7 linked regions of the Homo sapiens genome follow. The protein of the gene in region 3 purifies or fractionates together with the protein of the main gene of each other region. This does not show direct contact. Each region holds a gene or a part of one and is shown on either strand. Other genes may lie near its edges. The genes, in order: SLC26A2, SLC25A30, SLC22A16, TSPAN15, AGPAT2, ACSM1 and SERINC1.

Region 1 (3,500 bases), on a different chromosome or scaffold from region 3:
ACTACAATAAAGCTATAAAGTCTAATTCTTATCTGAAGGGGAAAAGAGTAGCTTGAATATAACCTGTTACATAATTTTCTTTTTCTTTTCTTTAAGAGACACAGTCTCACTCTGTTGCTCAGACTGGAGTGCAGTGGCATGATCATAGTTCACTGCAGCCTTGAACTCCTGGCCTCAAACAATCCCCCACTTCAGCTTCCAGATTAGCTGGTATTATGGACACACGCCGCTGTGCCCAGCTAAGTCATTTTGTTTTCAATTGCAGTTTATATTTCAATTCCTAAGAAATCGTCACTGAATGTTCCAATACTCTGGATACGCAGCCTTGGGAAATGTATTTCTTAAGTCCCCAGACACACACAACTTTGGGAGGAAGTATCTAAGCAAGGTTTTATTTCTTTTTGTAATATTTTTCTAAAAACAGTTATATTTAGTTTTAAAATATGACAGCTTCATTGGATAGATTTGATGACATATTAATCAGATACAGGTTGAGTATCCCTAATTCAAAAATCCAAAATCAAAAATGCACCAAAATCTGAAACTTTTGAGCACCAACATGATGCTCAAAAGAAATGCTCACTGGAGCAATTTGGATTTCCAGATTAGAGATGCTCAACTAGTAAGTATAAAACAAATATTAAAAAAAAAAATTCAGAAATTGGAAACACTGCCAGTCCCAAGCATTTCAGGTAAGGGATACTCAACCTGTACTGGGATTTTCCTAAGAAATCTAGGCCATTTAAAACTGAGCTTCACAACCTGTTGTAAATATGGTGTGATATGCATGTTTGTGTATGTGTGTTTAAGTAACTGCTTTTAACACATAACACAATCTAAAACCATAGGCAGTGAGGGTCAGTAGAAAAAGTAACCTGTTGTCAGGAGCCCTGGACTCCAGGCAAGTCATAACCCTCTGTCCCAACCATGAGACAGTTCAAACTAAATGATCAAATCATTAAGTGGTAGTTTTCCTGAATTACAGGACTTTAGAGCTAGACAGAGATCAAGAAATCCAACCGCCATGATTTTTTGGTAAGAAATAAGAGTTCAGCTGGGTACCAGTGGTTTACAACTATAATCTCAGCACTTCGGAAGGCCGAGGCATGCGGATCACTTGAGCTCAGGAGTCCAAGACCAGCCTGGCCCACATGGTGAAATTCTATCTCTACTAAAAATCCAAAAATTAGCCAGGCGTGGTAGCACATGCCTATAATCCCTGCTACTTGGGAGGCTGAGGCACAAGAATCACTTGAACCCAGGAGACAGAGGTTGCAGTGAGTTGAGATTGCGCCACTGCACTCTAGCCTAGGTGACAGACAAGACTCTGTCTCAAAAAATAAAATAAAATAAATAAATAAAGGTTCAGATTAGTGAAATCATTTGCTACTTAAAGGCAGAGATGGATCCAGAACCCAAGTATCCTGACTCCTAACCTTTTTCCTCTAATAGATTGCCTATGCCAGTCTCTGTAAGTGTATATACATCAGATAATTACAGGAAAACTAGAGTCGACCTAAAAACAACCTAAAGATCTCAAGTTTGTGGAAAACCTGAAGTCTTAACATTAACCCAGCATTAATGTGAACAAGTCAACAACCAAAGTAAGTCTCCTCTCTTATATGGAAAAATCTCAGACTAGACTGGTAAGAGCTACAGTGTAAGAAAAAAAAATAATTAAAAATATATTTTTAATAAAAATAAACTAGACTAGAATATGTAGTTTAGAAATAATTTTCCAATACTTCACACAGCTTTTTTTTTTTTTTTTTTTTTTTGAGACAGAGTCTTGCTCTGTTGCCCAGGCTGAAATGCAGTGGTGTGATCTCGGCTCACTGCAACCTCCATCTCCCAGGTTCAAGCGATTCTCCTGCCTCAGCCACCTGAGTAGCTGGGACTACAGGCGCCTGCCACCATGCCCGGCTAATTTTTGTATTTTTAGTAGAGACAGGGTTTCACCATGTTGGCCAGGATGGTCTCATCTCCAGACCTTGTGATCCGCCTGCCTCGGCCTCCCAAAGTGCTGGGATTACAGGCGTGAGCCACCGCGCCCAGCCACACACAGCTTGTAAGTAGGGGAATCATGACTTGAACAAGCCTGCCTGATTCAAACGTATACTGTCGCTTGATTGCTTATTTTGAAGCTGTTTTTAAATCTTCAGAAAAGTTGAAAGAATGATACATGGAACACTTCCATACTAACAATTCACCTATTTAGCAATTTTACAGTTCATAAGATGTTAACACACTCTCTCTCCATACTTATATGGGTTTTGTCATTATTGTTTTTCAACTATTTGAAAGTTGCAGGCATAGTTCAGCCTTAAACACTTTATTGAACCTACATTTAAAAAAAATTTTTATTTTGAAATAACTGTGGACTTGCAGAAAAGCTGTAAAAATAGTACACAGTTCCTGTATAATGGTCACTCAGTTTCCTCTAATATTGAACCTACATTTTTTTTTTAATTTTTTATTTTTGAGACAGAGTCTCACTCTGTTGCCCAGGCTGGAGTGCAGTGGCACAATCTTGGCTCACTGCAAGCTCCTCCTCCTGGGTTCATGCCATTCTCCTGCCTAAGCCTCCCAAGTAGCTGGGACTACAGGTGCCCGCCACCACACCTGGCTAATTTTTTGTATTTTTAGTAGAGACAGAGTTTCACCGTGTTAGCCAGGATGGTCTCGAGCTCCTGACCTCGTGATCCGCCCGCCTCGGCCTCCTAAAGTGCTAGGATTACAGGCGTGAGCCACCACGCCTGGCTATTTTTTATTTTTATTTTTGAGATGGGGTCTCACTCTGTTACCCAGGCTGGAGTGCAGTGGCATGATCTCAGCTCACTGCAACCTCCACCTCCTGGGCTCAAGCGATCCTGAGTAGCTGGGATCACAAGTGCACGCCACCATGCCCAGCTATTTTTTTGTATTTTTTGTAGAGACAGGTTTTCGCCGTGTTGTCCAGGCTGGTCTTGAACTCCTGAGCTCAAGTGATCTGCCTGCCACGGCCTCCCAAATTGCTGGGATTATAGGCATGAGCAAAGGAAGAGCCCAGCCTGAACCTACATTTTTAAAGCACTATGCCTCTTCTTCAAAAGAAGCATTCATTAGCAAGATGAGGTCAACCATTTGGATATGCTCCCCAAAAATCTGCACTGGCTCCCTATCTCCTACCAAATATGGTCTAAAAACATTGGTATAAGCTTCTATGCATGAGCCTAAAACTGCCACTGTCTTGCTTCCTCCTATGCACTAGTGTTCCAATCACCAGTCCATGAAAATATCAAGCAGCCTTTGCCCTTGGGGCCTTTGCTCATTGCCCAACCTCAAATGACACCTTATATAAATCGGTCCCTTCCTAGATACAATATATAAAACAGAGGCCAGGCACAGTGGTTCATGTCTGTAATCCCAGCGCTTTGAGAGGCCAAGGCAGGAAGATCACTTTGAGGCCAGGAGTTCGAGACCAGCCTGGGTAACATAGCAAGATCTTGTCTCCACAAAAA
Region 2 (3,500 bases), on a different chromosome or scaffold from region 3:
ACCAATATTTTTTTAACAGCCCTTGGAAGATAGTGTCTGCAAAGTACTATCTAGAGGAAGGGTCATGTGATCCTTCAGAGAAACCTTAGTTTGAATATTTGGTAGCTTTGACCAGGGAAAGTTACTTTTCTTCTCTGAGGCTGTTTGCTTAGTTGTGAGATGTGGATAATGATACCTCTTTCATAGGACTGTGAAGAAAATGTATAGCAATGCCTAACAGCAGGTATTCAGGGATGACTGCTAGTGTTAGTATTATGTTCATAACGCAGCAAGGAGAAGTAAGGAATTACTGGGTTTTAGCATGGCTTAGAGAACATGGCTGTAAGAGGACTGTCAAATCAGAAGTGATCTACAGCCACTGCCCGACACTGGAATTTCTGCAAAGTTGTAATTCCTTCCCCGAGATGCTGCCCAGACACTATTGACTGCTAAGGACACATTAATCTCTCTAACTGTCTTGGCTTGTCAGCCTTGGGACTTCTGTAGATCCAGTTGGGATTTTTCCAAACAACTGTGTTTGGAATTCAAGGAAGTGTTTCACGAGACTTCCCTTCAGAAAGAGCTCCAAAACAAAGAAATGGGTTAGTTTACTGAACAGAGATTTCAGCCTAAGATACTTATAGCCCTGTCACAGCTTGCTGTGGCCAGTACAGCTTAGTGGACATCTACTTACTTATTCCAGTCCTAACTAGAACCGTTTTCGTGTGTGTGTGTGTGTGTGTGTGTGTGTGTGTGTGTATGTGTGTGTGTGTGTTTGAGACAAAGTTTCGCTTTTGTTGCCCAGGCTGGAATGCAGTGTCAAGATCTTGGCTCACTGCAACTTCCGCCTCCCGGTTTCAAGCGATTCTTCTGCCTCCGCCTCCTGAGTAGCTGGAATTACAGGCACCCGCCACCATGCCTGGCTGAGTTTTGTATTTTTAGCAGAGACTGGGTTTTGCCATGTTGGCCAGGTGGTCTTGAACTCCTGACCTCAGGTGATCCGCCCACCTCGGCCTCCCAAAGTGCTGGGATTACTGACATGAGCCACTGCGCCCGCCCCCTTTTCCTTATTTGGATGTTTGCCCATGTACTGCGGCTCTCTAGTTCATATTTAAGCCAAATTATTCTTTTACTCAGCAAACATTAACTTGATAAGTTCCAGTAATATTAACTGCTTAGGGATCTAGTCCTACCTTTTGGAAAGGAAGAGAAAGGCCAAAAAGTTGTTTTTACCTCCTGACTAGCTAACTTTTAAAAATCGTAATTGAATAGAAGTACTTGCTTATAGGATGCTGATCCAGGAGTGGACACTAATTTGTAGAAAAGTTTTATTGGTGGTACTTCTGAATGAATGGGCATGTGATTCATCCCATGTGATTGAAAACTATGAAGAAGCAATTCCATCACATTTTTAGCTCTAGTTAAGTATTTGCATATTAGTATTAACCCAGAGCCTCTGGATTTTAACCTAACCAACTGAAAACTTAATATCAAAACCGACAGAGGAAAAAGTAGCCAAATCTCATTAAAACTTAACTAGCTGGCCAGGCACGGTGGCTCAGGCCTATAATCCCAGCACTTTGGGAGGCCAAGGCAGGTGGATTACCTGAGGTCAGGAGTTCAAGACCAGCCTGGCCAACATGGCGAAATCCTGTCTCTATTAAAATACAAAATTAGCTGGGTATGGTGGCCCATGCCTGTGATCCCAGCTACTTGGGAGGCTGAGGCAGGGGAATCACTTGAACCTGGGAGGTGGAGGTTGCAGTGAGCTGAGATTGAGCCATTGCATTCCAGCCTGGGGGACAAGAGTGGGACTTTGTCTCAAAAAAAAAAAAAAAAGAGATGGAGTCTGACTCTGTTGGCTAGGCTGGTCTTGAACTCCTAGGCTCAAGCCATCCTTTCAGGAACTACAGATGCGTGCCACTACACCTGGCTTTGTTTTGCTTTTTAATCTGCAATCAGCTAGGTCTAAGAATGGGTTAAGGAAGTTAGTACTGGGTGGTAAATGAATTATTGGATTTATTATTAATAGGTTCTTACAGTCTCTTACAATCTTAACTATTATATGAGTTATGAATTTAATAAGGCTAAGAATTACTTAAGTGCAGTTATTAAATATTTTCAAAGATAATAGGGAGATGAGAGGAGTCTTTTGGGAGAGGGCTTGCTCCTTAGTACTGAAATACCTAAAAACATACAGTGGTTTTCATGTTTCATTCTTACAGAACCTTCTATTTTACTCATTTGTAACTGCTATGAATTTGGTTAATATCCATAAACAAGGAATAATGATTAATAGATTTATTCAAGGTGCCCGATGGGGGGTCCTAGTGTTGGAAACTGATATTCTGGGCAGTGGTGACTTGTGGTAGTCCTCTCCTGGGAAAAGGAGACTTGGGAAATTCCTAAACACAGGCAAAGTAAACATGTTGGCATATTGCTTGCCAATAATGACTGAAAAGTTAGAAATTTTATTTTAAACCAACAGTAGCTATAGTTGATAGTATATATACAAAAGTATTAGTCATATGAGTCTCCTGTTAAGGGGTGTGAGGCCACATTTACCAGCTCTAATTACATACAACTGCAGAACATGTCATGAATGTGAAAGGCCTTAGCTGTGGCACATAAGTACATGTCACAGTGAGCAAGGTCTTATTATGGAAAAGGAAGATGGAGGGCAATATTTGTGAGTGTCTTTAAAATATATATGGCTTAATGCCCACAATAGGCCTACAGCTTGACATTTATTTAACTTAGTGAATAAAAGTATGGATGTCCCCCTAATTGGTTGTGTTGCCTGCTGTGGTGATGATGGTGTTGGCGAAGAAGAAAACCGAGACTCAGGTTAGCAGGAACTTCTCTAGGAAGGGTGTGGGGTGGCTCTGACCCCAGAGTCAGCCTCTTTCCTCATGCCAAACTGCCTCACAGCTGGTAACGTAATAAGGCTAAGAGAAGTGAGCCGATATTTATAGAATGTAGACTACAAGTAGCCTGTGGTGGCTGGGCATAGTGGCTCTCACCTCTTTTCCCAGCACTTTGGGAGGCTAGGGCTGGAAGATTACTTGAGTCCAGGAGTTAGAGACCAGTCTACAAAAAATAAAACAATTAGGCTGGCATGGTGGTGTGTGCCTGTGGTCCCAGGTAGTTGGGAAGCTGAGGTGGGAGGATCACATGAGCCCAGGAGGTTGAGGCTACGGTGAGCCATGTTTGTGCCACTACGCTCTAGTCTTTGTGACAGGGTGAGACCCTGTCTTAAAAAAAAAACAAAAAAAGAAGTAGCTTGTAATTTTAAGTAATTGTCATTTTACCTTATGACACAAGTTTGCAACATTTGTCTGCTGCAGTGCACCTGAGGGATGTGATCCCCACCCCACCCCCCCACCCCCAGTAAGGACTCACTAAGATAGCAGTGAACGAATAGCAAATACTTTTTTTTTTTTTTTTTTGACACAGGGTGTTACTGTGTTGCCCAGGCTGGTCTTGAAATCCTGGGTTGAAACAATTCTCCTACCTTGGCC
Region 3 (3,500 bases):
CAAATCATACTCTGAATTGACCTTCATACTTAACTGTAATAAGCTAAATTCTTCCCATCAAACTGTCACAGTATAACTGTCTTATAAAAAACAGAAGATAACTCACCTGGGGGATCACCATAACGACACCACAGGCCAGTGCACTGCAGAAAAGAGAGTAGGCCAGGACTGTTCTCCTCCCGACCTTGTCCATGGCGATGCACACGAAGGTGTAGGCGGGAATTTCCACTACACCTGTCATTGAGCAAGCAGCCCTCTATAAGTCTAGGTACCCGACTGCAAAAGGGGACCCCCGTCTTCTAACCCACTACCCAAAAGGCATGAGCAGCCCTCTCCTCACTTCTGGGGCCTTTAGAAACTCTCTAAGAATTGCTGCGAGGCAGCCAGCCCCGCCACTTTTAAACTCACTACAGTAAAGATGAGCGTTTCCTGTGAAATGCTCTAATGCTCATAATCCGCCTGGCACCTGCAAATGGCACAAAGCCAGAGCCCAAATTCCCACCAGCCCCAAACTGTCTCAGGAGATAAAAACTTGTTCAAAAATTTCACAGCCGAGAATTATTGAACAGAAGCACCCATCTGCAAGAGTACAAGTGAAAAATCCAAAACGGTAGATAATATAAAACCATGTGTGTTTGTCTTTGGAAACATTTTTGTATTTATGAGATTGCCCAGTTTTTTGACAATTTATGTCTTTGGCAAAAGTAAAAAACTATGTCATGAAGATCTAAACTTCTAGCCTTCCTAAGCTTCTGCATCCACACTCCACCCCACCTACCATTGGCCACTCTGTTCTAGGGATACTGCACCATCTCAAATTGTCATAGAGAATGAGTTTGAAGTCAAGACAGGCTCTTTCTATAAACTTGTTAGTTTGCTTCAAAAAAAAGAGTAAATCTTTTTTTCTTAAAACGACTTCTCTCATAATTCCTGCTGAGCTATAATGAACAAAAACGGATGTGTCTGCTGAGGAAATCAGAAAAAATAACCAGATGTGCCGTCAGAGCACTTTAATGAGATGGCACGATGTCTACGTATAAAAATTTAGAAGCAAGATGTTTTGAGGATAATATAAAATACAGGCAGCCTACACAGCAATAAGCAGGAGTTAAGACTAGATGGATAAAAAGAGGTTTCTAATATTTCTCTCACGTTTTAGTTTAAATTTGGTTTACACTAGGAGTCACATCTCAAGCTATCTAAAGTGATTTAACCTGCCATTAAAATGAAAGAAGTACAACAACATAAATTATAGTTGCATGTATTTAAAAGTTATTTTACTAACTAAAATTTATAAATTAAGGACACTTGAAGGTTGAGAGGTGCCAGATAGCCAAGGCATATTAAATTTTAAAAGGGAAGCAACTTACAAAGAACAATATATAGTGAGTGATCTCATTTATGTTAAAATATAAAACATTAATATGCACAAATATATGAAAATGCGTAGAAACAGATCTGATCAGCACAGGAATTTTGACCTGCTCCATTTTCGACCAGGGCCGGTTCACCCCTCCTTAGGCAACCTGGTGGTTCCCTGCTCTCAGGAGGTCACCATACTGATACTGAACTTAGTGTGGACACCTGATCAGCATAGAGTACTGCAGCCCAGAACTCCTGGGCTCAAGTAATCCTCCCTCCTCAGCCTCCCGAGTAGCTGGGACTACAGGCACATGCCACAATGTCTGGCACAAATGCATAGGAATAGATCTGAAAGGGCACAACCCAAACATTATAGAAGTTACCCCTGGGAGGAGCTCTGGGCTGGGGATGGGTGTGAAGAAGGTGAGCAAGGAGAGAAGGCAGAAAGGGAGAGACTAAATTCTTCTGATGCATTTTTTTCAAATGGAAAATACAAGGAGTTTTCAAAAAGGTCATGGACGGCGGGGTGCTGTGGCTCATGCCTGTAATCCCAGCACTCTGGGAGGCCAAGGCGGGTGGATCACCTGAGGTCAGGAGTTCGAGACCAGCCTGGCCAACATGGTGAAACCCTGTCTCTACTAAAATATAAAAATTAGCTGGGCATGGTGGCATGTGCCCGTAATATCATTTATTCAGGAGGCTGAAACAGGAGAATCGCTTGAACCCAGGAGGCGGATATTGCAGTGAGCTGAGATCACACCACTGCACTCCAACCTGGGCAACAGAGCAAGACTCCTTTTCCAAAAAAAAAAGTTAATGGAAAGTGCATATTATGAAAAAACTATGCATGTGTTTTCAGATTTTTTCTGCACTAAAAGAAATTTGTACTAACTTCTTAGAACGTGTCTGAAGAGGAGCTAGTTTGAGGCACTAAGAAGAATAAGATATCAGTTTGAAAAGAGCTCCCACTAGAGCAACATGAATTCTGCTGAAATTGAAGCAAGAACAAACATCAAATTTATGGTGAAGCTTGGGTGGAAGAATGGTGAAATCATTGATGCTTTATGAAAAGTTTACGGGCACAAAGCCCCAAATAAATCAGCAGTTTACAAATGGATAACTTATTTTAAGAAAGGACAAGACGATATTGAAGATGAAGACCACAGTGGCAGAGCATCCACATTGAGGAAAAAAATACATCTTGTTTATGCCCTAATTGACAAAGACTGAGATTAACAGCAGAAGCAATAGCCAATACCATAGATATCTCAATTAGTCTGGCTTACAGAATTCTGACTGAAAAATTAAAGTTGAGCAAACTTTCCACTCAATGGGTGCCAAAACAGTTGTGCCCAGATCAGCTGCAGAGAAGGGCAGAACTTCCCATGGAAATTTTAAACAAGTGGGATCAAGATCCTGAAGGATTTCTTTGGAGAATTGTAACAGGAGATGAAACACGGTTTTACGAGTCTGATCCTGAAGACAAAGCCCAACCAAAGCAATGGTTACCAAGGGGGGCCATGGTCCTGTCAAAGCAAAAGTGGACCAGTCGAAAGCAAAGGTCATGGCAACGTTTGTTGGGGATGCTCAAGGCATTTTGCTTGTTAGCTTTCTGGAGGGCCAAAGAATGAAAATATCTGCTTATGAGGAGAGTGTTTTGAGAGAGTTAACCAAAGCTTTTGTAGAAAAATGCCTGGGAAACATCACCAGAGAGTCCTTCTCCTCCATGACAATGGGCATGCTCATTCCTCTCATCAAACAAGGGCAATTTTGCAAGAGTTTTGATGGGAAATCACTAGGCAGCCACCTTAACAGTTCTCATGGTGGCTCATTCTGACTTCTTTCTGTTTCCTAATCTTAAAAAGTCTGTACGCGGCACCCATTTTTCTTCAGTTAATAGTGTAAATAAGACTGCATTGACATGGGTACATTCTCAGGACCCTCAGTTTTTTAAGGATGGAATAAATGGCTGATGTCGTACAAAAGTGTCTTGACCTTGATGGCAATCATGTTGAGAAAGTTTATGTTTTAAATTTTTGTCTTTTAATGCCATTTTTCCATGAACTGGTTGAAGTCCCCTCATATGTACATGTGTTACAACATAACACTAAGAGATATCATAATAATATGGTTGGCAG
Region 4 (3,500 bases), on a different chromosome or scaffold from region 3:
TAGGTTGTGATGATCACAGAACCCACCTCCTAGGGCTGTTTTGGACATAAAGTGAGATACACATATAAAGTGCTTATCACGGGGCTGGGCACATGGAGGAGCACAAGAATGCTGGCTGGCGTGATTTGTTCACAATTCCAGCCCCTGCAAAGGAAAGGGAGGGTGTCTTCTCTCCTTCCGAGAGAGGGTTGGGCCTCAGATGTCATCTAGGTCATTCTAAATGTCAGGGCTTGATGTGCAGGCAAGACGACCTCCCTCGGTTTAGCTGGTTCTCCAGGTAGCCTCAGTCCCAGCCATGCCCAGTGCCCACTGGGCATTAGTCAGCCAGTGTTTTTGGCCCTTCCAGGCCATAAACACAACCCCTATGGAGAGGGTCAGGCCTGGAGAGCAGGTGCACGGGCACATGATGGGAGTGAGTGCTTTCCATCTCATTGGTTCATTCATTTGTTCATTGAACAAATATTAACTGAGCACCTATTGCATGTCAATCCCAGTTCTAGTCACTTGAAATACAGAACAACAAGACAAAGTCCCTGCCTTCATGGAACTTACACTGTAGAAAGGGAGATAATGAACATAACAAATAGGTAAGCTGCATGGTACGTAGGGAGGTGACAAGAGTGACTTCACTGGGCCAGCTCTGGTGACCTCGGGGGATGAGTCTCTTAGCACACAGGCAACTGGCAGAGGCCTCTCTGGCATCAGAGCCCAGAACCCTTCTCCAGGCCCAGGGGGGACTCACCTCACCCTGCCAGGAGAGCCCCTCACCAAGGGGTGAGGGGATACGATGCATCCATAGTCTTTCCAAAAGTAAAGCCTGCCTGGGTTTACCTGCCTGACCATAGAATCGATATTCTGCAAGAGGCTCTGCTGAAGTTCACAGGCCCCAAGACCAGGGTCCAGTAGCCTCTTCCATCCTGCACGGGGCCACAGGACAGGAAGTCAGAAGGGGGACTCCTGGGCAGCCAGAAGATCACAGCAATGTTTGTGTGTGCATCCTCTCACCCTGAAAAGACTGAGCAGCTAATGGGGACAGGGAGAGGGGCCTTCGCGACAGGCCCCCAAGGGGTAGCCAACAACAAGGGAGGGGAGGTACGTGAAAATTGGTCCCAAGAGCTCAGCAGGCACAGCAGTCTGGAGCCATTTAATGTAGAAGCACGCTGCCCTCTGCACCAACATCTCCGAGGGATATATCCTGGTATAACCAGATTTTACAGCCCTATGTGAACTTCTATGGCTCAAATCCTCTATTGGAAGCTCATATAAGACATTTCTTTTAAAGCTGAGTGTTAGGGAAAAGGTTACTTTCCCTGAAGAACTGGTATGTTCTGCTGGTATGTTCTGCTGAACAGTAACAATGTAACAGACCATGTCTCCCTTTTCCTTTTGGTTGCCAGGAAACTCTAAGCCAGTGGTCTCCAACCTTTCTGGCACCAGAGACTGGTTTCAAGGAAAATAATTTTTCCACAGGATGGGGTGCGGGGGGGTGGGGGGTGATGGTGTCGGGATGAAACCATTCCACCTCAGATCATCAGGCATTAGTTTGATTCTCATAAGGAGCATGCACCCTAGGTCCCTTGCATGCACAGTTTACAATAGGGTTCACACTCCTATGCGACTCTAATGCTGCTGCTGATGTGACAGGAGGTGTAGCTCAGGTGGCAATGCTCCCTCAACCTCTGCCCACCTCCTGTTGTGCGACCTGGTTCCTAACAAGCCACTGACCGGTACTGGTTCATGGCCTGGAGGTAGGGGAGCCCTGCTCCAAGCCACCAGACACGAGGCTCAGCTCCTTTTCAGTGAGTCCATGAGGTCCTGAGGCTTAGATAGCAGGATTTTATATTTTTCTCCATCATCTAGGCCTCCTATCTGAGAATACAATTCCCACAGTCCTGATTTTTAATGCTATTTTAGTTTTTTACACTACATATTTCCCGTGTACTCATTCAAATCCCAGGTTGAATAGTACAGTGTAAAATAAATAGATCTGGACACAAATCAACCAGTTCTATGGAGGAAGCGAACGCCCTGTTTCACATTTAGAGAAAATCATCCAGGTGTGGTGGCACAGGGAGACTCAATGGTCATGTGTAACACAGGGTCAGATAACCCCGGCCAGGGGAAGGCTCCTCCCTACCTCAGTGCTCTCATTCAGATGCTGTCTTTAGATTCTACCCTATCTGCAGATGATGTCCGTGTTTACACCCCTTGCCTAGTCGTTCCCAGAACTCCAGACTCCTATATCCAACCGCATCTTTGACACCCCTGATGGGATGCTGAACAGGCTCTCAAACCCCCCACGTCCACGGTGAGCTCCTGGTCACCCAGCCTGCCTCCTTGCAGTCCTCCCCTCTCAGGCAGTGGCAGCCCCGTCTTTCCTGTGGCTCAGACCAAAACCTGGGTATCCTCCTTGATTTCTCTCTTTCATTCATCGCCCACATCTGCTATGCGAGCAAATCCTGTAGGCTTACTTGCAAAATACAGCCAGAATGTCACCACGGTTTGCCACTTCCACCACCACCACCACCACCCAGCTCCAAGCATCTGTCTTCCCCTCCCTGGTGCAGGGATGCTGTGGGGAGCCCTTAGGTGTCAGCCCCCTGCAATAACTACTTCATGTGATCATTAATTTTATATGTCAACATGACCAGGCCATGGGATACCCAGATATTTGGCCAGACATTATCCTGGGTGTCTCTGTGGGGGTGTTTCTGCATGAGGCTAATGTTTAAATCAGCAGACTAAGTAAAGCAGATGGCCCTGCCCAAGGGGGAGAGGTCTCATCTGATCAGGGAAGGCCTGAACAGAACAAAAGACTGCCCTCTCCTCAGTGACCATAAGAGAATTCTCCCTGCTTGGCTACCTTCGGGCTTGAACTGAAATGCTGGCTCTTCCTAGGTTTGAAGCCTGACCAGCCTTTGAATGGGAACTCCACCCTCAGCTCTCCTGGGTCTCCAGCCTGCCGACTCACCCTGCAGATCTTGGGACTTGCCCGCCTCCATAATTACACAAGCCAATTCCTTATCATCAATCAATCCCTCTCTTTCCTCTTGCTGTATTAGTCTGTTCTTGGCTGAACAGAGCCAGCAAGTCCCTTCTTGGGTGGACCACTGGACTCATGCAATGCCTGGTCAATGTGGGTGGGAGTGTGAAGGCCTGGCCCCCTCACCCCAGTAGGGGACAACTCTGAAGGGCTGTCCTCATAGATGTGGCTGAGGCCTCCAGCCGAACTGAGCTGAGGCTGCATCACTGCTCAACTCCCTTCATTGCCCAATCCCGCTTCTGGCTCCCACTTCCACAGGTGTTGATCCAAGAGCACCTTCCTGGACAAGATGACCTATGACCCCTGGATCACTGCATATCAGCCCCTAACTCTATCCCTGCATCTAGCATGTCCCTCACAACAGCCAGACTGATTCTTGTAAAACCAAGTCAGAGTGCCCCTCTTCCATGCAGCCCTGTATGGTCCATCACTCAAGGGTGCCCCACAGTCCTGCCTG
Region 5 (2,408 bases), on a different chromosome or scaffold from region 3:
CTGCCTGACCCCCAGCACAATAAAAATGAAACGTGAGCTGCTGTGTCAGTGGATGGACTGGGGGCCTGGGAGGAGGGCGCTCACCTCCTGGCCACCCCTCCCAGACCCACTGCTGGGTGCCAGCTGGCAAAGGGGGCCTGGTGGAGCGGGCAGTCGTGGGGTGGGGAGGGGGTCCAAGGCAGAGGGGGTGGGCAGGTGGTTTCTGTGAGGCCACAGAGAGCTTTGTCCTGGGGACATGTTGGCCCCAACCAGAGGCCAAAGAGCAAATCTCTGGCCTCCTTCCCAGTAGCCTGAGGATCCCGGCACACTTGCCCGTTAGGCGACACCCCCACCCATCGATGGAAGTAGTATAGGGTGATGTGGGTCCACTCCTGGATAGGGAACACGGGTGGGTGGCGGTGCCTGCACCCTGGGCCTCTAGGCAGGGCAGCTGGGAAGACACAGCGTCGCCTCCACCGCCCTGGTCACCTGCCCGCCCTGTGAGTGACCACAGCTCCCCAGCCACTTCCAAGAGTGTGTTTATAAAAAAACAGCAACGGAGTACAGTGCTGACCCCACAGAGTCTTCCAGGCCAGCAGGAGCAGCAGGCCCCGATTCCCGGCTCCCTGTGGCCCAGGGTGCGTGAGTCTGGGACTCCTGGCCCTCCAGGCCCCTCCTCTCCCAGAGAGCCTGATGCAGCTTGTGGGCTGGACCCTGGAGCCCAGCTGCACCCTGGTGGGTCCCAGGCGGCTGAGCAGAGGGCTCGGACAGTGTGCGTCTGGCCTCGGGGTCCTCCCATCTGCTCCTGGGCCATCGGGGGCCTTGTGGCTCAGCCCACCAGCGGGCCACAGCCGCAAGCCTCATCTTTATCATCCCAGCTCCCAGAGGTGCCGTGGGCGCGAGTCCCTGCCCTCGAGCCCGGGGAGGGTCCAGCTGAGCCCCCTGCAGGGGACACCAGGGGCCTGTGTCTGAGGCCAGTGACAGAAGGGGCTTCCTGCTTCCCGGGCTGAGTGAGAGCTGGGGGAGCCGGACAGAGTGGTATTTGGAAGCCGGGAGGAGTCCCCTCTGCCCATCCTCCAGCCATCGGCTTCCACCTGCCCTCCCCAGGTCATGCCCTGCCGTGGTCTGGGCTACTGGGCCGGCTGCACGCCAGACCCCGCAGTGGCCCCGTTCTCCTGGGGGGTCTTGGAGATGTGGAGGAAGGTGGTCCTCATGGCCCGGTGGCAGGTGTCCACGAGCGCAGGGACGTCCGCCGCAGTGAGGCCGCTGGTGGGGATGGCTTCCAGCACCTGCACTGTGACTGTTCCTGTGGGGGAAGCAACAGACCTCAGTGGCCTGTGGGGAGCTGGGGCCCACCTCAGCCTGCTGCCCTGGCCTCGCCTCTCCCCAGCCCCCCACAGCCCCTCCCTGGGAAGCCCGAGGCCGGGCTCTTCCCCTGGACTCCCTAGCCGTGGTGGGTTATTTTAATTGCAGTAACGTTGCTGCAGTAAACCCCATGGCTGCCTGGCCTTCACGCCGCATTTTCGACAAGTCTGCGCTCCCCTGTTACTGCCCCCAGAAAGCCCCACTTCCTGATCAGCCCCTACCTCACTGCCTGGCCTCTGCCCTCCATACGGGGCGAGGGGCTGTGGGAGAGATGGAGCTGGGTTCCCCCACTGCTCTCCAACTTTGACCCCACTGTCCTGCCTGGGCACCAGGTGCCCACGTTCTGGGAACTGGCTGGAAGGGGCAAGAGGTCATGAGCCCCGCAGCCTGTGCCCCTGGGCTGCCTGGGTTCCATCTACCCTATGCGGGCATCAGCCTGGACACATGGGCTCAGAGGCCGCCCTCCAGGCCCCCAAGCTGTGTGCACAGCTGGGGTCCATCCGTGTGAAGTCTCTTGGAGCCTCAGTTTTCTCATCTGAAAAATGGGCCCAGCACCACCCATCTCACAGGGCCATGAGGCCATGAAGCCCACAGCTGGGACTCCAGCCTGAGTCACTCATTCGCCACATGGTCACCGTGTGGCCACGCCACGGGTGCCACCCGGAAATGGGAACGATGAGGGGCCCGGGGCTCCGTGACTGTAGGGTCAGGCGGGGCCTACACCCCGGGTGCACACATGTGGGGGTACCTGAAGTGAAGAACTTCTTCTTGGTGTTGTAGAAGGAGGAGAAGGAAGAGTACACCACGGGGACGATGGGCACCTGCAGGCAGGGAGACGCACAGCTGAGGCAGCCCTGGGGACAGGCCAGGCACACCCCAGGCTGCATGTGGTTGGGGAGCCCTGTCCTGCGGCCCACCCACCCCTGCCTTCGCTGCTGCCATGGGTCCTTGTGGCTGTCCTGCCCCTGGGACCTGGGATATGTGTCCTGCTCTGGTTGGCCCAGAGTTCCATAAGCTCATCCTGCAAATTTTTACTCATCTCCTCTAGGAAGCCCTCCTGAGCT
Region 6 (3,500 bases), on a different chromosome or scaffold from region 3:
GTTTCAGTTGTACGTAATTGGGAAATATTTGGCAGTACACCTTTGAGACCTGGCCTGAGGGTGGTATGGAGCCCCACACAAATCACATGAACTGAGAGTGAGAAAGGTGGGTTCGTAGCTAAAAACCAGAGTGCACAGCCCTTCATCACATCAGCCATGATCACACAGCTGAGGCCACTGCATTTTGGAGTTAGTAGGAAATTACGGAGCCTGAAGACATCTGATGTCTCCTGGTGCCTGTCGGACTCAGGATGGATTGTGGCTACCATTTGGACCCTGGTAGAACCATGGACAGCGGGTTGTACAGTCTTTATCCACCATCTGCCACAGTTTGACACCAAGGTCATCATACAGGTAAGAAGACTCACCTTCCCCTATCAGCAAAATTCCAGAAAAAAATCCATGTTTCCTGGACCTTGCTAAAAAAATATTTTATTAAGCAAAGAAGCCCATGAGCCTAAGATGATCCTGAGCCTGGGCTTCTCAAAGTGTGATGCACTGAGTCTGAGTCACTATACCTGAGTCACATCAAAATGTGACCTTGAAGAAAATGTGTATTACTGGGCGATCCTTCAGACCTGTAGATCAGTCTTTGTAGACTTGGGACCCAGGATGTGCATTTTGAAAAATTAAAGCAAGCACAAGTCCAAGTCTCCCAGATCCTGGACCCTGATGCTGCCAGGGCCAAGCAGCTGGGGTGTGTGTGTGTGTGTGTGTGTGTGTGTGTGTGTGTGTGTGTTTTCTTACTCAATATGATAAAATGTTTAAAAACAGCCCTTGGAATATGACAGATCTAGCTTCTTATCCCACCTTTGAAATTAACTAGCAGGTTACATACCACTCTGAGCATCAGTTTCCTTATCTGCAAAATAGGTCTTTTAATAATTACTACCTCATAAAGTCTTAGGTAATATTAATGAGATGATAGAGGCGATATGTGTAAAGTACTTAACCCTGACATTAGCACATAGAAAACACTCTATCTGTGGGAGCTGCTGCTGCTATTGTTATGATGAGTACATCATGATGACAATTCAAGTCACCTGCATGAATTCTTTCTGTCTATGTCCCTTCACCCCAACATTTTCTTTATGTCTCCACTCACACCCTTGCTTTCCCTCTCAGAGGCAGACCTTGCCCTCCACCTCTCAAAATCCACCCGCTCTGCACAACCACTGCAGAGTTCTGTCTCCTGGCCTTGGATAAACAGCATTTCTTTATTAATCTTTAATCTACTATGCATTTTCTCCTGTATTTTCAGTCTCTCACTTTTCGCTAGTTTTACACCCTCAGTCCGTAAACATATTCAGTGTACTTATCCTAAAATGCCTTCCTTTGAACCTGCTACACACTGGGTCAACCCATCTTTTCCACCTTAATACCAAACTTCACCAAAGAACATCCTCCATTTGCTGCAGCCACCTCTGCTTCACCTAGCCTGCTCCTGAATACTGCAGTGCTCCAGTGGTCTGCCCTTACTGTTCTTCTTTCTAAGCAATTTCCTTCACCTCCATTTTTCTCAGCAAGCACATCAATGCAGGTGGCTGTCAGGACTGTACCTAGGGTCTAGTCTTCTCGGTCCAAGCTGATTCTCCCAGGCTAGCAAAACATTTCCAACCTGCTAGTTGGTAAAGCCCATCTGATCATTCCTCCAGAACATCAAACTGCACTTCCCATATCTCATTACCTACCTCTATATCAATGCCTCCTCCTGTGTCACCATCATTATTTTCTGTACCACATTCTGCACCTGAGACTTAAAGCACCACAAACAAGACTGACCACCCTTCCCATCCTCATGCCTAATTCTTCCGCTGCTATAGAGAGTGTCCCAAAAGGTCTTTATGTATTTTAAGCCTTAGTAAATGCTTAAAGTTTAAAATTCTACAAATTTACCAAAAAAGCATTTGCATTACTATTTCCCACTTACTATTTTTATGAATTATTCATAATAATTTTTAATTTAGATATTGTATTAGTCCATCTTATTGAAGACTAAAACAAAAAGTCTTTTAAATTTTTGATTCAGAGGGTGCATGTGCAGATTCGTTACATGAGTATATTGCATGATTCTGAGGTTTGGAGTAAGAATATTCTCATGACCCAGCTAGTGCATATAGTACCCAATAAGTTTTTCAGCCCACGACCCCCTCCCTGTCTCTCCCTTCTCATAGTGTCTATTGTTATCCCCAGCATCTATTGTTTCCAACTTTATGTCCATGTGTATTCAATGTTTAGTTCCCACTTATAAGTGAGAAAAAAATGATGTTTGGTTTTTTACTCCTGCATAAATTTACTTAGGATAACAGCCTCCAGCTTCATCCATGTTGCTGCCAAAGACATGATTTCATTCTTCTTTATGGCTGTGTAGTATTGCATGGTGTATATGTAGCACATTTTCTTTATACCAGTCCACCATTGATGGGCACCTAGGTCAATTTGATGTCTTTGCTATTGTGAATAGCACTGCCAATAACATATGAGCCTCTGTGTCTTCTTGGTAGAACCATTTATTTTCCTTTGGATATATACCCAGTAATGGGATTGCTGGGTCAAACGGTAGTTCTAAGTTTGTTGAGGAATTTTCAAATTGCTTTCCACAGTGGCTAAACTAATTTGCATTTCTATCAATAGTATATAAGCATTCCATTTTTTCCAAAGCCTCACCAGCATTTGTTTTTGACCTTTTAATAATCACCATTCTGATAGGTGTGAGATGGTATCTCACTGTGGTTTTAATTTGCATTTCTCTGATTAATGACATTGAGCATTTTTTCATATGTTTGTTGGATGCTTGCATGTCTTCTTTTGAGAAGTGTCTGTTTATGTACTTTGCCCATTTTTTAATTGGATTATTTGGGTTTTACTTGTTGATTTGTGTTCTTTGTAGATTCTGATATTAGTTCTAATTAGACATCACATATAAGAGTCTACAAATAACTTAAATTCTTTGTAGAATCTGGATATTTGATTCTGGATGTTGTCAGATGCATAGTTTGAAAATATTTTCTCCCACTCTGTAAGCTGTTTACTCTCTTGATAATTTCTTTTGCTGTGCTGAAGCTCTTTAGTTTAATTGGGTCCCACTTGTTAATTTTTGGTTTTGATGCAATTGGTTTTGGGGACTTAGCCATAAATTCTTTGCCATAGCTAATATCCAGAAGAGTATTTCCTAGATTTTCTTCTAGGATATTTACAGTGTAATGTTTTATATTTAAATCCTTACTCCATCTTGAGTTAATTTTTGTATATGGCGAAAGGTAGGAGCCCAGGTTTATTCTGCTACATATGGCTAGCCAGTTTTCCCAGCACCATTTATGGAATAGGAAGTCCTTTCTCCATTGCTTATTTTTGTTCACTTTGTTGAAGACCATATGGCTATAGCTGTGACTTCTCTATTGTGTTTCACTGGTGTATTTGTCTGTTTTTGTACCAGTACCATGCTGTTTTGGTTACTGTAGCCTTATGACATAGTTTGAAGTTGGGCAACGTGATGCCTC
Region 7 (2,479 bases), about 12 Mb from region 3:
TGGGCATTGTGCTGCTGATAATGTTGGAGAAAGACCACTTCACAAGAATTATGGAATAAAATATACTAAAGCTTGGTAACTAACATGAGTTGGAGTATTTTATCAGTAAAAGTACATTCTTTTTTAGTAAGGGAAATTTTTATACTATCTGAAGTATCTGTGGAAGAAGACAAGCATCAAAACTGGCAACCAGAAAAAATAGCTGGAAGACATAGTAGATGTAGAATATCCACTGAAAATATATTAATATTCTCCAAACTAAACTGATCCATATACTGAAGACTCTTTAGGGGAAGAATGCCTCTTTACCTTTGAGATCCTACTTCTGGGGTCACTTACAGACAACCAAAGGGTAACAATCTCCTAAGCAATTTAATTATCATTACAGAAAACAGGCAGTTACTTTCTAGTGCCAGGTCCTTTTTCACATAGGAAGAAAGGTCTAAATGTTATTATGGCCACCTAAAGTTAAGCTGCTAAATAATCAGTACACTACACACTTTCTCTGAATTCATTTATTTAGAGGTAAAACACAGCCATTCAAAATTGTGGAATACAATGTCTACACACAGAATAAGGTTGGGGAATTAAGCTGAATTGTTATATTCCATTCACATTAATAAATATTTTTAAAGAAGAAATTGTAGATTTTAAAAGCTTCATTAGACACTAGTGACACATACAAATAACTAAACTCTCATACTGCTTGATTTTCAGGTTGAAAGGTTACAATAATCTATATATTTCAATTACATGGCAGTAAATACAAAAGCATTTTAAACATCTTTTGAACTGTGTAGTATACTATAAGCAGGAGTTTATTCTAAAACATTCCATCATTCTTCTGACCTGTTTATGGGTCATGCTGGACACCAGCAATCCACATCACATAAATTATCCACCAGTAATGAGGTGTAAAATCAATTATGCATGTATTTTGAATAGAAATTATTTTTAAATGTCAGAGAGAATGCTATTATTGGCCAACTTGAAATTTCCTAATTAGCTATCTGAGCTATTTAAGTCTGTATTTCAGTGTCTTCATTTTTTTAAATGAGAGAACTGGACTAGATTTTATATAAGTACCTACTAAAGCCTAGTGTTTTGCAGTTACTTCCTTCCCTGTCAAAATTTTGCCTCCTTTGATTTTCAATATATATATATTTTTTTGTCTTACTCTGTTGCCCAGGCTAGAGTGCAGTGACGTGACCTTGGCTCACTGCAACCTCTGCCTCCTGGGCTCAAGCAATCCTCCCACCTCAGCCTCCTCAGTAGCTGGGACCACAGGCATATGCTACAAAGCCCAGATTATTTTTTATAGAAACAGGGTTTCACCATGTTGCCCAGGCTGGTCTTGAATTCCTGGGCTCAAGTAATCTACCCACCTCAGCCTCCCAAAGTGCTGGGATTACAAGGGTGAGCTACCGTGCTGGCCCAAAACTAACTTTCAAAGTGACTTTCAAACACTTCCTTCTAACCCATGATTATCCTTTTCAAAACCTTGTCTAAATCCTTCAGAGTTCCAAACATTTCCACTGAACCCATACTTCATGAGTTTAAAACAACCAAAACAGTTCACTTTGTTGGCAAAGGCCATCTCTACCCAAGTAAGATTATTTACTCGTTATTCAATTTAGTACCGACACCTCCATCCATAACCTACACTATTGTCCACTAAACACTCCCTACCTGTGTAAATTCCGTATCAAGGGTAAAACCTTATAAGATTTTTCAGACAACTGGCATTTAAGTGACTTGTTTATAAATTTTAAAATAAACCATGTTCTTTGCAGTATCCTGCCAGGCAACACATCAAATATTTCAAAAGGCAGCCATACATTTGCTTTAATGCTTGCTAAAACAGCTTAAGGTCTAATATAATTTTAAAATAGTCAAACAAATTTGTTTTTACTCTTCATTTCACAACTATAGAGCAGAGAATAAGCCCAATAATGGCCACTTTTACTAACTCATCACCATATTCATAAAACTTTCCTCTGCAATTCATTCTACTTCACATATCAATGCACTTGGTAAGAAAATAACAAAATGACAAGCAGTAAAATCTAATTCATGCCAGAACACTGGAGAAGTTACATGGGAAGCAAAAACATACACAACTTTACAAAAGTTGGGAATACTGTTTTCAAATAAGCAATAATCAAAGTGGGACTTTCATGCTAGAAGTCTCACTCAGTCAAAATCACGATTTGTAAGAACAAGTGGTGCCACGAGTGTCCAAACATACAGCACGATGCCAATCCAACTGGAAGAGATTTTCACCCAGACAGCTGTCCACTGACTTTTCATCTCACGAGAGGGTTCATACCTAAAATTTCAGGGAAAATTATTAAAAAGGGGCAAGGGGGTTGAATTATCAGCCACCAAGCTATGAAGCTTCATTAATTCAGAAGCGTGCTTTGTATACAGTTTGTGATTTCAGATATATCATTGCTGCATCTAATCTGCTCCCTTTCTT

What was found.
Region 1: the proteins of SLC22A16 (region 3) and SLC26A2 purify together in Homo sapiens (affinity purification with mass spectrometry; 2 studies listed by BioGRID and IntAct, with this or other methods). This does not show direct contact.
Region 2: the proteins of SLC22A16 (region 3) and SLC25A30 purify together in Homo sapiens (affinity purification with mass spectrometry; 2 studies listed by BioGRID and IntAct, with this or other methods). This does not show direct contact.
Region 4: the proteins of SLC22A16 (region 3) and TSPAN15 purify together in Homo sapiens (affinity purification with mass spectrometry; one large-scale study listed by BioGRID and IntAct). This does not show direct contact.
Region 5: the proteins of SLC22A16 (region 3) and AGPAT2 purify together in Homo sapiens (affinity purification with mass spectrometry; 2 studies listed by BioGRID and IntAct, with this or other methods). This does not show direct contact.
Region 6: the proteins of SLC22A16 (region 3) and ACSM1 purify together in Homo sapiens (affinity purification with mass spectrometry; 2 studies listed by BioGRID and IntAct, with this or other methods). This does not show direct contact.
Region 7: the proteins of SLC22A16 (region 3) and SERINC1 purify together in Homo sapiens (affinity purification with mass spectrometry; 2 studies listed by BioGRID and IntAct, with this or other methods). This does not show direct contact.

Annotation. Positions count from the first base shown.
Region 1 is NC_000005.10:149,963,758-149,967,257, reverse strand, and holds part of SLC26A2 (sulfate transporter), read right to left. Parts: intron 1-3,500. UniProt on the Homo sapiens protein: Sulfate transporter which mediates sulfate uptake into chondrocytes in order to maintain adequate sulfation of proteoglycans which is needed for cartilage development.
Region 2 is NC_000013.11:45,411,874-45,415,373, reverse strand, and holds part of SLC25A30 (kidney mitochondrial carrier protein 1), read left to right. Parts: intron 1-3,435; exon of another isoform or gene 3,436-3,500. UniProt on the Homo sapiens protein: Antiporter that transports inorganic anions (sulfate, sulfite, thiosulfate and phosphate) and, to a lesser extent, a variety of dicarboxylates (e.g. malonate, malate and citramalate) and, even more so, aspartate.
Region 3 is NC_000006.12:110,438,614-110,442,113, forward strand, and holds part of SLC22A16 (solute carrier family 22 member 16), read right to left. Parts: intron 1,681-3,500; exon of another isoform or gene 1,459-1,680; intron 235-1,458; coding exon 107-234; intron 1-106. UniProt on the Homo sapiens protein: Facilitative organic cation transporter that mediates the transport of carnitine as well as the polyamine spermidine. Mediates the partially Na(+)-dependent bidirectional transport of carnitine.
Region 4 is NC_000010.11:69,499,965-69,503,464, reverse strand, and holds part of TSPAN15 (tetraspanin-15), read right to left. Parts: intron 1-3,500. UniProt on the Homo sapiens protein: Part of TspanC8 subgroup, composed of 6 members that interact with the transmembrane metalloprotease ADAM10.
Region 5 is NC_000009.12:136,672,643-136,675,050, forward strand, and holds the end of AGPAT2 (1-acyl-sn-glycerol-3-phosphate acyltransferase beta), read right to left. Parts: intron 2,166-2,408; coding exon 2,093-2,165; intron 1,286-2,092; coding exon 1,110-1,285; 3' UTR 501-1,109; downstream 1-500. UniProt on the Homo sapiens protein: Converts 1-acyl-sn-glycerol-3-phosphate (lysophosphatidic acid or LPA) into 1,2-diacyl-sn-glycerol-3-phosphate (phosphatidic acid or PA) by incorporating an acyl moiety at the sn-2 position of the glycerol backbone.
Region 6 is NC_000016.10:20,666,681-20,670,180, reverse strand, and holds part of ACSM1 (acyl-coenzyme A synthetase ACSM1, mitochondrial), read left to right. Parts: intron 1-190; exon of another isoform or gene 191-194; coding exon 195-354; intron 355-3,500. UniProt on the Homo sapiens protein: Catalyzes the activation of fatty acids by CoA to produce an acyl-CoA, the first step in fatty acid metabolism.
Region 7 is NC_000006.12:122,442,851-122,445,329, forward strand, and holds the end of SERINC1 (serine incorporator 1), read right to left. Parts: intron 2,330-2,479; coding exon 2,194-2,329; 3' UTR 501-2,193; downstream 1-500.